3 separate regions of the Homo sapiens genome follow, and regions 2 and 3 are each linked to region 1. Evidence: fine-mapped expression QTL. A gene starts in region 1. Each other region holds a variant in brackets. All regions are shown on one strand. Distances are from middle to middle.

What was found.
Region 2: its variant is fine-mapped to the expression of COCH in thyroid (GTEx, PIP above 0.99). The same link has a PIP of 0.9 or more in adrenal gland.
Region 3: its variant is fine-mapped to the expression of COCH in whole blood (TOPMed, PIP above 0.99).

What each region holds. Positions count from the first base shown.
Region 1 is chr14:30,872,396-30,877,622 of GRCh38, forward strand. It overlaps COCH (cochlin), which reads left to right and starts at 2,164. Exons shown (of 12, transcript NM_004086.3): 1 at 2,164-2,196; 2 at 2,521-2,577; 3 at 2,661-2,708; 4 at 5,177-5,227. The coding sequence starts at 2,544. It overlaps COCH-AS1 (COCH antisense RNA 1), which reads right to left. Exons shown (of 5, transcript NR_038356.1): 5 at 3,784-4,157. RefSeq lists a silencer at 1,726-2,245.
Region 2 is chr14:30,767,791-30,773,017 of GRCh38, forward strand. No RefSeq gene overlaps it. Among named protein-coding and RNA genes, the nearest start is that of COCH, 100 kb to the right of the region's middle. The variant AC/A (reference allele first, on the strand shown) is at 2,291.
Region 3 is chr14:30,844,425-30,849,651 of GRCh38, forward strand. No RefSeq gene overlaps it. Among named protein-coding and RNA genes, the nearest start is that of COCH, 28 kb to the right of the region's middle. The variant T/C (reference allele first, on the strand shown) is at 3,125.

The sequences.
Region 1 (5,227 bases):
CCAAAGCAGAGGCAATTACCTCTTAAATTCAGATATTTTTCTTTAATATACTTATGGTGAGCATGAACTACAAACTAGCTAAGAATGAGAGTCTAAACCCCACTCTTCCACTCTCCTTGGTTGGCCTTACCAAAAAGAAAAAAATAGTAAAGACAGAGTAACTTCTCTTAAATGTTTCAAAACAAAATAATTAAGATGAATCTCAGTAAACAACCATGAAATTCAGTGAGGTATTTCCTTTATTTTTTAATGGTTACAGACTCAGGGTCTGTCATGGAAATAGCTGCATAGTTTTGACTCTGCCAAATCACTCACTGAAATTACATCACAGGAGGGCTGCCAGTGCCCTGTGGGGGCTCTGAATAGCATCTACCCCTTTGGCCATTTGGGACCTGCCTGCTGAGCTGTGAAGTGGCAGGTTTTTTCCAGCGTACAGACTCTTCCTAATTATATAGCATCATGACAATTTGTCCAGCCTAATTAGGGGAGGTTATCCAACCCTGATTGAGGACACTCAATAAACAATAATGGAAAAGACAGCTTTAATTGTCCTGAGGCTTGAAATTTCTCCCATGGAAAATATCAGGGGCAGTGGCTAGATTACTGGATTTCTAAGAAAAGGGTAATTCTCTATACCAGGGAAGGGAGTAAATCTTGAAAGCAGCCATGAAAATAAACATCAAAAACCTCCCAGCCCTCAAATGTTATTTGGTCTCTTTCCCTCCAGAAGACATTCAGGTAGTAAAGGGAATGAAATCAACACTCCTTAGTTGCCTGATACAAATACTAAGTCATTCCAATCAGGAAGATAGTTGTAATTAAGACTACTACACTAGTTGACTTCCAGGTGATGGTGGTGTATTTGTTTCTCAGTATAAAATGGCATGGGAATACTTTTCAACAATAAAAAGAAAGGAAGTACTGTTCTATAATGCCTCATGGATGAACCTCAAAAACATTCTGTGCAGTGAAGGAAGCCGCACAATGTATAATCCCATCTATAAGAAACGACCACTAAGAAAAATCTATAGAGACAGGAAATAGGTTAGTGATTGCCTAGGACTAGGAGTGGGAGAAGAGACTGACTGACAATGGCGAGGAGATCATTTTGGGGAGGATGAACCTGTTCTGAAATTGGCTTGTGGTGATGGTTGTACAGCTCTGAAAATTTACTAAACATCATTGAACTGTACACTCAAAACGGATGGATTTTATGGCATGTAAATTGTAACTAAATAAGGCTATTTGAAAAAGTTTATATTGTACCAGAAAGGTTAGCGTCTGGGCCTGGGTCTGGTTCTTCCGCTGCCATGCAGGTCGCCTGTCACTAACACTCCTCAAGAATTCTGCTCCTTCTCCATTTCCATTTGTAAAACGTTAGCAGGATGGTGCGGGGAGAAGGAGAACACATTATCAAATCTGAGATTCTGTGCAGTCACAAGACACCAAGTCTGGGAATTTCGAAAGGCAATCAGGCATAAATTCTTCCTGAGGTGAGAAAGAAGCAAAGGTACCGGCTGCTGGGGTCAGGGCTGTCTCACACGCGTGGCTCTAGGCAGGAGCACAAATTGAACCACTGGGGAAAGTAGGACTCCAGCAGAAACGAAGGCGCAAGGCCGAATCCCTAAGGTCCAACGAGCTAGCAGTCAGTTGACAGGGTTTCTAACAAAAACGCGGCATGCGTTTACCAAACCTAGGGTGGTTTTATTTCAGAAGTAGGAACTCTTTCCACGAGAGCACCAAGTTGAGAAGTTCGGTTCTCAGGCCGCGTGGACCTGACAGCTCTCAGAAGCTCCAGGCCTCGCTGGGTGGGGCGGGTAGCGGCCGCCGCTGCCTCAGCAGCCCTGGTCCCGGCAGAGCAGGGCTGGCGAGGCCGCTGCTGCCGCCGTCGGGGCCGCCGGCCCTCCACACTCGTTGAGACGCCGGCACGGGGACCTTCGTGCCCCTCTAGGGACTGGCGCCGCGTCCAGGTGGCCGAGCCTGCGCTGCTGGAGGAGGCGCCTCCGCGCCGGCCTCACCCCGGGGCCGGCAGGGGGCGAAGGCGGAGCTGGAAGTCGCCGCCGGGCCCCGGGGGACCGGCTCCCGCGCTTCCTCCCGCGCCCCCCGCACAGTGCTCATGCGCACGGCCCAGCCTTTATAGCGGCCGCGGGGGCCTTGCCTTCCGCACTCGGGCGCAGCCGGGTGGATCTCGAGCAGGTGCGGAGCCCCGGGCGGCGGGCGCGGGTGCGAGGGATCCCTGACGCCTCTGTCCCTGTTTCTTTGTCGCTCCCAGCCTGTCTGTCGTCGTTTTGGCGCCCCCGCCTCCCCGCGGTGCGGGGTTGCACACCGATCCTGGGCTTCGCTCGATTTGCCGCCGAGGCGCCTCCCAGACCTAGAGGGGCGCTGGCCTGGAGCAGCGGGTCGTCTGTGTCCTCTCTCCTCTGCGCCGCGCCCGGGGATCCGAAGGGTGCGGGGCTCTGAGGAGGTGACGCGCGGGGCCTCCCGCACCCTGGCCTTGCCCGCATTCTCCCTCTCTCCCAGGTGTGAGCAGCCTATCAGTCACCATGTCCGCAGCCTGGATCCCGGCTCTCGGCCTCGGTGGGTGCGCGCCCCTCACGACCCCGGCCCCTTGCTCCGCTGGGTGGAGGCTGGAGCCAGCCCTCACGCTTCTCTCTTCGCAGGTGTGTGTCTGCTGCTGCTGCCGGGGCCCGCGGGCAGCGAGGGAGCCGGTGAGTGGGGGAGCTGGGGTGCGTCCAGGCGGTCGCAGGGGCTGAGCACCAGCGGGTACAAGCGGGACTCAGATCCAGCCCCTTGGGCTTCAGCCCTACCGCCTGAGGAGGAAGGCGCGAAGGTTGAGCCGCCGCGTGGCGCGCCCGCGTTAACCCCTGCAGCCGATCTGCTCCTGCTCACCTGTTTCTCCCATGGTAGGGGGCCCCTGGGGTCCAGTGGGGGGACGTTCTCCAAGAGCACTAGGAAGAAGGCCTCCTCCAGGCCCACCCACAGCCCCAGACCCCGGGCCCGCTGAGCGCCGGCAGCAGGAGGTCGAGGAAGGAGGACTCCTTGAGCCTCACCGAGGAGCGCACCAGTCCTGGGCTCTGCTGCGTTTGGGGGTGGAGGAGAAGCCGCCCAGACCCGACTTCAGGTTGCCGTAGCCGAGAGAGAGGGAGGCGAACGTCGCTGTCCCACCTTGTTTGACTCGCTAGCTATGTTTCTAGGTGTAACCCCTATAATCAGAAGCACTCGCGGTCTCACTCTACACGCTAGAGAGTTTAAAAAGTTTGTACCACGTGTAGAGGTCCGGGTATGGGTGTGTGGTTTGGTGTATTTTCCAGTGTAAAAGGCAACGCTTTCCTAAGAGCTACCGTTTGTTTTCCTTGAAAGTAGGAATGAGGGTTAAGTATCCCTCATGGCTGTATTTCTCCCGCTCTACTTAACAAAAGTCAGTGTTCGCAACTAAAGGCGGTCGGTCTTGGCACCGGATTCCGATGCCGCCCCCATCTCAGCGGAAAATGGGAGGAAGGATTAAGGCTGTTTGATGATAGGTATGAGGCTGTTTAGGGGTAAGGATTTTAACCTCTCAGCTCTCTAGACTGCTTCAGAGCTAAGAAATGGGCATTGCGCCTGCATCCTTCCTTCTCTTCCATGGAATGTAAGGTACCTGTCACCACAAAGGGCACAGAGGAGGGTGCTTGTCACAGGCAAGGTACTCAGTTGGACAGTATGGCCAGAAAGTATTCCTCTGCCTTGGAAAAAAAAGGTTTTTAAAATTAATATATGTTTTAAAAAGGTTTGGATAACTACAACTTCCCATGTTTGAAAAATAGCATTTAATAACATTAATCTCAATTTAGTATCGACAGTAAATTCACAAATTAACATGTTGTATTATGTTATCTTGTTACTTGTTGCCAAGAGCTTGTCTCTTCCTAGCATCATTTATAGTAAAAACTGATTCTTTGTTAGGTTGACAGTGTAAAACTTGAGAATATTAACAGTGCTTTCTAAAAATGCATCCGCTGCTTGATAAATCTCACTGGACAGATCTGGAGCAGAAATAATCAGGTTCAATTAAGATAAAAATGCTGTATTCTGAAGGGATTCACTTTTCTGTTTTCTGTCCTTCGGGAGTTGTAGAATGTTGTTTGGGCAAATTAACCCCACGGCTTTAATTTTCTCATCTATAAAATGAACAATCAAGTTAGATAACTTTCTGTGAATCTAAGCATCTTTTTGTTGGCTTCCTTAATGTGTGAGTTTAAGGATCTGCATTTGTAGGCTAACTAGGATAAATGGTCCTATGAAGGAAAGGATGGCTTTGATTTGTGCACATGTCTATGAAAATGTTCCACAAAGGCTCAATCCAGATTTACTATCTTTACCTCAAGCAACTGTGTACATAGCGTCATCAAAGTTGAGATTTAAAAATTTTTTTTTTTCTTCTGGAGACAAGATCTTATTCTGTAACCCAGGATGGAGTGCAGTGATGCAATCATAGCTCATTGCAAGCTTGAACTCCCGGGCTCAAGCAATCCTCCCACCTCAGCCTCTCCAGTGGCGGAGAGTACAGGCATGCACCACCACGTGTGGCCATTTAAAAAAAATTTTTTTTTTTTAGAAGAGATGAGGTCTTGCTATGTTGTCCAGACTGGTCTTGACCTCCTGGACTCAAGCAAATCCTCTTGTCTTGGCCTGCTAAAGTGCTGGGATTATAGGCATGAGTCACCACGCCCAGCCAAGATTTTTTATATTTCTATAATTAATATTAAATGACTTTTATTTTCTAGTTCAGATATAGTTCCAATTATGTATTTCCAACCTGGTTAAGAACTGAGAAGCCAGGCACAGTGGCACACCTGTAATCCCAGCTACTAGGGAGTTGGAGGTGGATCACTTGAGCTCGGGAATTTGAGCCTAGCTTGGGCAACTTGGCGAGTCCCCATTTCAAAAACAAAAACGAAATAAAAACCCAGAACTTTCACATTAGAGTTTTATAGTGGCTGGGGACTATATTAAATTGGAAAACAACCTTGTGGCTTGCCAAAATCTGGAATGGTATGGAAGGGTATATAAGTCAATAGTCATAACTAGAAGTGTAGAAATTAGGGAAGTAAAACTTAAATCTCACACTGTAGTCTCCCCACCACTATGCCCCAAGAAGTCCTAAGAATGCTTACAATATTATCTCCTTTTTCTTCAGCTCCCATTGCTATCACATGTTTTACCAGAGGCTTGGACATCAGGAAAGAGA
Region 2 (5,227 bases), 100 kb before region 1:
GCTTCTTCATGTCACTATTCAGTCTGGAGTGGAGACATCTGATTGGCAGAGCCTAGGTCACGTGCCCATTCCTGAACTGCGAGGAAGACTGGAAAGAGGGTACATCACACTTTCAGCACCTACAGCAGAGGCCGACTTGCATCATAAGGTGGGGAACTCCTCTAACACAGAAAGCAAGTTCTCCACCATCTCTCCAGCATCATTCTTTGCTGGCCAGCCAAGATAAGTGCAAAATGTTCACTATACCTCCCATATCATGACCCTGATTAAGAATTTTAGATGACAGTTCAATGCTTGAAGGACAAAATCTGAATTCTTTTCTTGGCATACAAAGCCTGACCCTAATCTGTGTTTCTTTTTTTTTTTTTTTTTTTTTTTTTTTTTTTTTTTTTTGAGACGGAGTCTCCCTGTCGCCCAGGCTGGAGTGCAGTGGCGCAATCTCGGCTCACTGCAAGCTCTGCCTCCCAGGTTCACACCATTCTCCTGCCTCAGCCTCCTGAGTAGCTGGGACTACAGGCACCCGCCACCACGCCCGGCTAATTTTTTGTATTTTTAGTAGAGACGGGGTTTCATCATGTTAGCCAGGATGGTCTAGATCTCCTGACCTCGTGATCCGCCCGCCTCGGCCTCCCAAAGTGCTGGGATTACAGGCGTGAGCCACCACACCCAGCTGCCTAATCTGTCTTTCTAACCTCAATGCCTACCTCTCACTCCACCATCTGGTTGGCTGGCCTCACTCAGGAGCTGTTGCTGCCCCTCGCAAGCCCTTTATTTGCATGGCTCTGGGGCTCTGCTATGCTTGAAATATCCTCCTCTTCTGTCTTCATCAGGGAAGCTCCTACTCATTTGTCAAAGCCCACTTCAGGGAAGCCTGCCCAAATCTATGGGCCACATCAACCAGGCCCTCTCCACACTCTGCTCTGTTATAGCATTTAGTAGGTACTAAATTAATAAATGGTTGGTGGGTGAGAATTATCCTTCTCCAAAATCAAAGCAGCAGCTCTTAAAAGCAAGAAGTACTTTAAAATTTAAATAAATACAATTTAAAACTCTACTTTTACAGTCAAAAGAAGTAATGTTTTTGATATTTTCCAGAAATTCTGAACAAACAGATGAACTTTGGCCCAATATCCTTATTTTTCACTGTGTCCTGAAGGTTATCTCTGAGCAAATGAGTAAAGATAAGACGTATCTGACAATTTTCATTAAGCCAAGAAACACAGAGAAATGAAACACACTCAGATCCCAAAGGGGCCCAAGACCAGGTCCAATCTAAGCCTAAGTGGAAATGGGAGCATGGTATGCAGCTGAAATTTGATGTGAAATGCTTCTCAGTGACAACTAGTAAAATCAGCAATTACATTGGAGTTCCTAAATTACTCCCTGCAAAACAAACAAATGAAATATAGCTAGTGGGTACAGCTGATCTGAAACTCAAATAACTGCCTCGTTTTTATTTCTGTCCCCATTGAATGACACAGCCAATGGCACAAGACATGAAGAAGAGGAGTTCCGGGGAAAAGCATGCTGGGGATGACCCCCACCAGAATCCCTGGTGGTGCGGTGGACAGATCCCACTGTCTCCCACATTTCACATCCCCAAATGGTGCCACTGGTACTTATACTAGGTGAGAATTCACTGATCAACTCCGTGTGACCTGGACTTCAAGTCTGCCTTGTATTCCTGTGTTTGGACATTCTTCCCTCTACAAAGGTCCCTTCACATTAATTTATTCTTCTTTCCTTGTTTAAGATGGCAGGGTGCCCTTTGCTTTCTTTCATCTTTGCTTTTCTCTCTACAGTAGCCTCTGAGCATATAAGGTTTTTGAATTCCTTATTTGTGGATTTTTAAATTTTCGGTTTCATTTTTCAGGTTTCTTGAAGGCTGTGTGAAGCCCTCCACTCTCCCCACACATATTACATGTTGCCCTCTTTCTAGAGGGGCTCCAGTAATGCTAATTTCACCTGACAGGCAACAAGTGGAAGCTGATGGCCAGAAGGTCACAAGAAAAAAAAACTGGAGAAATTGTATTCAGCCAGGTCAAAAAAAAAGTCATGGTGGTCATCCGGAGAGGCCAGAGGCACCAGTCAGGAGCTGGAGTCACTGCTGCAAGGACCCCACCACCTCCTCCCACCCAACAAAGGAGCTCCATGGCTGCCATGCTAGATCACCCCTGACCGTTCACCTCACAGGGCCTGAGAACAGCTCTCAGGGACAAGAGAAATGATCTAAGGTACCCAGTTCCCAACAACCATTCCTAAGAACTTGCAGAGCAGAATGTTAAAAACA[AC/A]CTTTTTTTTTTCTACAAGGGAGAAAGGCTAAAGTCATTAGCAAAGGAAAATCTCAAGAGATATCATTGCTTTCCCAAACAACCTCTCTAGGCTTGGGAACACATACCGTACCCATTTTGTACCCAGAGAGAGAGAGAGAAAAAAAAAAAACTTTTTATAACCTTACAAAAAAGTTACATAAACAACACTATCCTCTTTGTTGCTTTCTTTTTTTAAAAGGGGTTGTTTTGAAAATAGATAATTTTACTGATTCCGGAGCCAAGAATTGTTGCTCTGTCTTAAGGAACTGTTGGATGCCCTTTTTGGCAGGATTGTTTGTTTGTCTAAGATTATGCATGTTTGCTGGGGACATAAAAATGAGCTCAGGATTGGAGATGGCTGCACCTGAGTGGCGGGGCTTGTTGGAGCCGATGCATGGCCTGGCTCCCAAGGAGCTCCTGCCTGCTCACTCACAATTCCCTCAAATCAAACCTCTCCCTATCCAGGATACAAAGATGAGTGGGGAGGGCGGGGGCGAGGGGAGAGGTTAACAATGTCTTTACAGTCATACTCATCAAGTAAGTGTCACAAAGAAAAGGAACATAAATCCTGAAGTATGGGGAGGCAGGAAGGCAAGAGGAAAGAGAAGATGAGAGAAAAGGTAAACCATCGGGTAAAACTCAGCAAGATAGAGCTGGTTGTTTTGAGGCGACTATTTCCTGTAAGTGGACATACCACAGAAAGAAATGGAGAAAGCTCCAAGAGCACGGTGGTTTGAAACGGGTACACGCAACAGGAACCTGGTTAGTTCCACTTCTACATTCCTGACTCAATCTCAACAGAGATGTTTCCGATTATCCCAAAGGAAATGGTTAGAGAATCAATGCAGCACCGAAGTATGGTTACAATTATGCAAAATAATAGGATACAACCTAGTGGGAAGGTCTTCAACAGTGCATGAAGCTTATGCTTTGATGCAAATCTGCTTGAAATATAAGGATAGAAACTTCTTCAAATGTATGCTCCTTGGTATAAAAACACAAAAGCTCTGAGACAGTTAAACTTCCTTCAAATAAGAATGCATCCCACGGATGTTCTTTGTGAGACAGATATCTACAAAAAATTCTCCTACTAAAATCACAAGCCTCTGCAGTTTTTTTCTCTTGAATTATGGCCACTCAGAATAGTAATTTTGATATTAAATGCTCCTCCCTAATAAAAGGACAAAAAGCAAAATCTTTGAGGAGTTATATGTAGTGTTTAATACCATTTGTTTTCAAACCTGTGTTTTCAATGTTCAATTCTTCTATGCAATACCACCTCAAAACTAACCAAGTTCTTTCCTTAAATATTGAAACATCCCCAGGGTAGAGACTTGTTCTCTGCTCTGATCCCACTGCCAAGCACAGATCCAAGCTCATAGTGGTGCCCAACAAATATTAGCTGAATTATCATTAATTCATACTTTGTGTATGAACAAACATACACAAAGTTACAACCACTTTCTGGGCAATGCCTTTCCTACAAATATTCTTCAGAGTAATTTTCTGAGCGGAGGGGAATGTTCTTAAATTGGCACATCAGGATTTAGAAAATGAGCTGAAGCTCTGCACTTGTTGATTTACAAAAACACGTCGATTTTATTAGTTTTGAGCTGAAAATCAGCTTGGGAACATGAGAGGAGGCAGAAACGTGGGCTTGTTGATTCTTTAGAGACCTGCCAGTCAGCAACTCCTGTACCTCAACACAAGTGCATTCTTTGCTATTTTTCTTGGAAAACCTTGACAGTGTGCAGTGAGGGTGTCTTATCAGCTTCCAGGTAGAGGCAATGTGCCCAGCCACTTCAAACAGGGAAGCGGGGCAGGGGAAGGGACACCAGAGAAATGGAACCCAGGATGTGCCTGCTGAGGCTAGGGGCTTTGCAGATACAATATCCGACTATTTCCATGTCACCTGACTTCCCACTGTCTCCTTTGATTTTTAAAAGACTTAGTAGCACATATAACGGAGGGTTTTGTTTACCTTTAAGTATGAAATAACAGAAAAACAAACAAACGAATAGGCTGCACTACCTCTTCTCACTCTATCAAACCTGTGTTGACTCTTTGTGATCACATTGATTGAAACAAGAAAGAAGAAAAAAAAAAGATCATCCTATAGTCTAAAACAGACATACCTTCTATGTTTAAAAGGCTGTTTTCTACTGCTCTGAGATCATCCAACTCTCTCCCTTTCTTCTCTAGTGTTCAAGATTAATGTTCTCTTCCTTTGTCCCTTCCACATGCCGTGCTGGAAGAAATAAGGACCAAAACAAATACAAAAGGGTAGGGAAGAGTCTTGTTTTGTGACTTTTGTTTTGGTCCTTATGTCTTCCCACATTGCTGCTGAGGCTCTGGGATTTCCCCGAGGACTGCTCTTCTGCACATATTGTTTTTCTGACACCTTTTAAGTGGCTGTGCCCTTTCACACCTAGAGAAAACTGTTCCTGTATCCCTTCAAAATCTACGATAATCTCTACAACCTTCTGAAAACAAACAACAATGTATTCTTTGATATGTCAATAGGGTTCAATTTAGCAGTGATTCACATATGGTACTGCATTTTGAACTGGTGACTTCCATTTGTGAGCTACTGCTGAATACTCATCTCTTGAATTCTCAAACATAATTTGCTGTTTTCTGTGCTGTTGAGAGGCATAACCCTCTTTCCATCTAAGTCTTCAGCACAGACTGGAGGTCATCCTCCTTTCCTCTCTAAAATCCCAGGAAAAGCTCTCCTGGACTTTGGCTTCTCAATATCAGTGGTTGAGAAACATGCTGTAGCTTCAAACTACAAAATAGTTGGGGTGATCTTAGCTATATAACAGGCAGAGGAAAATGGCAAGGAATGCCAAGACTATGAAAGTTTTCAACACAATTTGCAGTATTAGAATCTGAGAGCTACGAATTAAATTTGT
Region 3 (5,227 bases), 28 kb before region 1:
CATTTCACATAACATAATGACCTCCAGTTCCATCCATGTTGTTATGAGTGACTAGATCTTATTCTTTTTCATGGCTAAATAGCACTCCATGTGTATATGTACCACATTTTCCTTATTAATTCATCTGTTGATGGATACCTAGATTGCTTCCAAATCTTGGCTACTGTGAATAGTGCTGCAATAAACATGGGTGTGTGGATCTCTTCAATATACTGATTTCCTTTATTTTAGATAGAACCTAACAGTGGGATTGCTGGATCATATGGTACCTCTATTTTTGGTTTTTTGAGGAACTTCCAAACTGTTCTCCATAGTGGTTGTACTAATTTACTTTCCCACCAACAGTGCACGAGGATTCTGTTTTCTCCACCTCCTCGCCAACATTTGTTATCGTTAGTCTTTTGGAAAAAGCCATTTTAACTGGGGTGAGATGATATCTCATTGTAGCTTTGATTTGCATTTCTCTGATGATTAATGATGTTGAGCACACTTTCATGTGCCTGTTTGCCATTTGTATGTCTTCTTTTGAAAAATGTCTGTTCACATCTTTTGCTTATTTTTAAATCAGATTATTATAATAGATATTTTTCCTGCACAGTCGTGTGAGCTCCTTATATGTCCTGGTTATTAATCCCTTGTCAGGTGGATAGTTTGCAAATATTTTCTCCCATTCTGTGGGTTATCTTTTCAATTTGCTGATTGTTTCCTCTGCTGTGCAGAAGCTTTTTAACTTGGTGTGATCCCATGTGTCCATTTTTGCTTTGCTTGCCTGTGCTTGTGGGGTATTACTCAAGAAATCTTTGCCAGTCCAATGTCCTGGAGAGTTTTGTCAACGTTTCCTTTTAGTAGTTTCATAATTTGAGATCTTAGATTAAAGTGAAAATGGATTAAAATAAATCCATTAAAGTTGAAAAGGCTTTAATCCATCTTGATTTGATCTTTGTATATGGTGAGAGAAAGGAGTCTAGTTTTATTCTCCTGCATATGGATATCCAGTTTTCCCAGCACCCTTTATTGAAGAGTGTCCTTTCCCCAATGTATGTTTCTGGTATCTTCATCAATAAGAGTTCACTGTAGATGTATGGTTTACTTTCTGGGTTCTCTATTCTGTTCCATTGGTCTACGTGTCTGTTTTTATGCTAGTACCATGCTATTTTGGTTACTATAGCACTGTAGTATAACTTGAAGTCAGGGAATGGGATTCCTCCAGTTTTGTTCTTTTTGCTCAGGATAGTTTTGGCTACCTTGGGTCTAAGCTGGGTCTTTTGTGGTTCCATATAAATTTTAGAATTATTTTCCTACCTCTGTGAAGAATGTCATTGGTATTTTGATAGAGATTGCATTGAATCTGTAGATTGCCTTGTGTACTATGGACATTTTTTAAAGTATTGATTCTTCCAATCCATGAACATTAAATATATTTCCATTTTTTCAGTGTTCTCTTCAATTTCTTTCATCAATGTTTTATAGCTTTCATTGTAAAGATCTTTCACTTCTTTTAAGTTAATTTCCAGGTAATTTTATTTGTTGCTATTGTAAATTAGATTACTTTTTTATTTTTTTCAGATTGTTTTCTGTTGTCATATAAATGATACTGGTTTTTTTTATGTTGATTTTGTATCCTGCAACTTTACTCAATGTATCAGTTCTAATAGTTTTTGGTGGAGTCTTTAGGTTTTTCCTAATATAAGATCATATCATCTTCAAACAAAGATAATTTGACTTCTTCCTTTCCTATTTGGATGCCTTTTATATCGTTCTCTGGTCTGATTGCTCTAGCTAGGATTTCTAGTACTACGTTGAATAACAGTGGTGAAGGTGGGCAGCCTTGTCATGTTACAGATCTTAGAGGAAAGGCTTTTAGTTTTTCCCCATTCAGTGTGATACCAGCTGTGACTCTGTCATATATGATGTTTATTACATTGAGGTATATTTCTAGCCCCAGTATTTTTTTAAGGGTTTTATCATGAATGGATGTTGAATTTTATCAAATGCTTTTTCAGCATCAGTTGAAATGATCATGTGGTTTTTGTCCTTCATTTTGTTGATATGATGGATCACATTGATTTGACTATATCGAACCATCCTTACACCCTGGGATGCATCACACTTGTTGATGATAAATGATCTTTTTAATGTGTTGTCAAATTCTGTTTGCTAGCATTTTGTTGAGGATTTTTGCATCAATGTTCATAAGAGATACTGGTCTGCAGTTTTCTTTTTTTGTTGTGTCTTTGTCTGGTTTCGGTACTGGGTAACACTGACCTTGAAGAATGAGTTTGAAAGTATTCCCTCCTTCTTTGTTTTTTGGAATAGTTTGAGTAGGACTGGTATTAGTTTTTCTTTACATGTTTGGTAGAATTCAGCAGTGAATTCATCAGGTCCTGGACTTTTCTTTACGGCGAGATTTTTTATTGCGGCTTTAATCTCATCGCTTGTTATTGGTCTGCTCAGGTTTTGAATTTCTCTATAGTTGAATCTTAGTAGGCTGTATGTGCCTAGGAGTTTATCAATTTCTTCTAGGTTTTTCAATTTTTGGCACATAGTTGCTCAAAATAACCTGTAATGATCTTTCGAATTGCTGTGGTATCAGTTGTAATGTCTCCTTTTTCATCTGTTTATTTATTTGGGTCTTCTCTCTTCTTTGCTTAATTAGTCTGGCTAAAGGTTTGTCACTTTTATCTTTTCAAAAAACCAACTTTTGGTTTCATTAATCTTTTTCAAATTGCATTTTATCTGGCTGATATTTCCAAAAATGCATGGCTTATGCTTAGCATGATTTCCTAGTTTCAGTGTCAATGCAGTTTTGTCCTAATTACTTCTCTTTGGCCATTTTGTTCCATTACAAGCTTGTTTTTATGCCATCCCCTTTCCATTGAAGAAAAATATATATCACATACCCAAATATGTACACACATGTATACACATGTATATATAATTCTTGATATAATCAAAAGAATATATGTAATGTATATGTAAGTTTTAAGTAAAATAAGACAAAGAACAACACTCTGTATCCTTGACAATATAAGAAACAGAACACTGCAAAAAATTGTAACTATATACTTGCCCTCCCCTTATGGTGGAAGGTGCCCTCTTCATATAGGGAGAAGTACACAGAATA[T/C]ACCTGGCAGTGTTTCCTGATTTTAATGCTAGTAAATTTTATTCCCTTTTTTTTTTACTTATCTTTAGCCATTTCATTGAAATTTTGTATTAGAGACCTTTGGGTGTTCATTATCAACTGATAGATTCAGTCTGTGTATGTGTTAATGAGAAAGAGTGACTGTAATAACCCATTTTCATACTGACGTTGCCTGGATTTGGTATCAAGGTAGCAGTGACCTCATAGAATGAGTTTTCTATCCTCTCAAAGAATTATTACATTTGGAATAATATGCTCCTTAGAAATTTGGTAGAACTACCTGTAAAACATCCAAGACATAGAGTTTTCTTAGTGGGAAAACATCACTGATAGTTTGATTTTTTTTAAATAGTCTTAGGACAATTCAGGCTTTCTATTTATTTTTTCTAAATTTTTATTTATTTGTTTTAATTGAGAAATAAAAATTGTATATATTTATCATGTACAGCATGCTTTGAAATAGGTACACATTGTGGAATAGCTAAATCGAGCTAATTAATATATATATTACCTCACATACATATCATTGCTTTGTGATGAGAACACTTCAAATCTATACTTAGCAATTTTCAAGAATATAATGCATTGTTATTAACTATAGTCTGCATATTTTACAACAGCTCTCCTTTTTTTTCAAAACAGGTTTTTCCTAGGATCTATGGAATAGATTAGTTCTGGAAAATTTAAAGCCCATATCTCTTTAAATATTGCCTACAATTTTCTCTCTAGTCTCACTTTTTGGGACTCGGTTAAATATATATTAGATTTCCTCACATATCTACTTTTTTATGTTTTCCAATTCCTTTTCTGCCTTTCCTGGAGTGATTATGGCTGTATTAAATCTGCTGTCAAACCCATTCATTGAGTCCTTAAATTTTTAACAATTGTATTTTACATTTTCAGAAATTCCCTTTTATTTCCAAGTCTACCTATTTATTCCTGCTGGTTTTTTTGTTACTTACTTATCTTTTTGATTGTGTCCATTATTTCTTTAAGTTTTTTTTTTTCTTAGAGACAGAGTCTCACTCTGTTGCCCAGACTAGAGTGCAGTGGTGAGATCATAGCTCGCTGCAATCTCCAACTCCTGGGCTCAAGAGAGCCTCTTGCTTCAGCCTCCCAGGTAGGTAGGGCAACAGGCGTGCCCCACCATACCTGGCTACTTTTTTCTTATTTTTTGTAGAGATGGGGCTCTCAATATGTTATCTAGTGTGGTCTCAAATTCCCAGCCTCCAGCGATCCTCTTGCCTCCATCTCCAAAAGAGATTACAGGCATGATCCACCACACCCTCCCCTTTAAATATTTTTAACATAGCTTCCCTATATTGTGCAACTGACAACTCTAATAACTGAAGTCTATGGGGAAGGGTCTAAATCTGTTTTTTTTTTTTCTATTGATCTCACTCAGCTTGGCTTGCATTGCAATGTGCATGGTGAACTTTGATTGTGAAATGATTGCTTAATCTGCAAACTAAATTGTTGAAGATTTCCCCCAGAGACAATTTGTTTTTTGCTTCTTCTTTTACCAGCAGCAAAAGGCAGTACTACCCTGGGATGACATCAGCCCCTTGGCACAGTCGAAGCTCACATTGGATGTTCCAAGCTCAGTTTTCTTACCTGGCCACCAATATCTTGGTAGCAGCATGACTATTGACATCTACTCTCAGGGAAAGCTCATCTCACACTTTCATTGCCCACGGCTCTGCTGGTTGTTGTATTTGCTGGGAGAGGGTCCTTGGAGATCTTACTACCTCTTATGAGACCAGACGTGCCTGAGAGACTGTCCTAAAGAGCCACACTGACAGAAGCAGAAATCTGTGGTGGTTTGTTCTGTGTTGACTCGGTCAAACTGAAATCATGTTTCCCAAAATCTTCTCCCTTCTATGGCTGTGGGCTTAATTGGCCAAGAGGATCTTGTGTGAGATTTAGAAGACAGAAGTGAAACAATAGCCATTATGTTCTGAAAGTCTGTCATCAGACACAGTGACAGAAATATGCAAAGGTGCCCAGCAGGCTCCAGCTGGTCTTTGGTCTCCTGTGTTCTAGAACAGTTCCTCTGTATAGCTCTTCTTCCCAACCACTGACCTT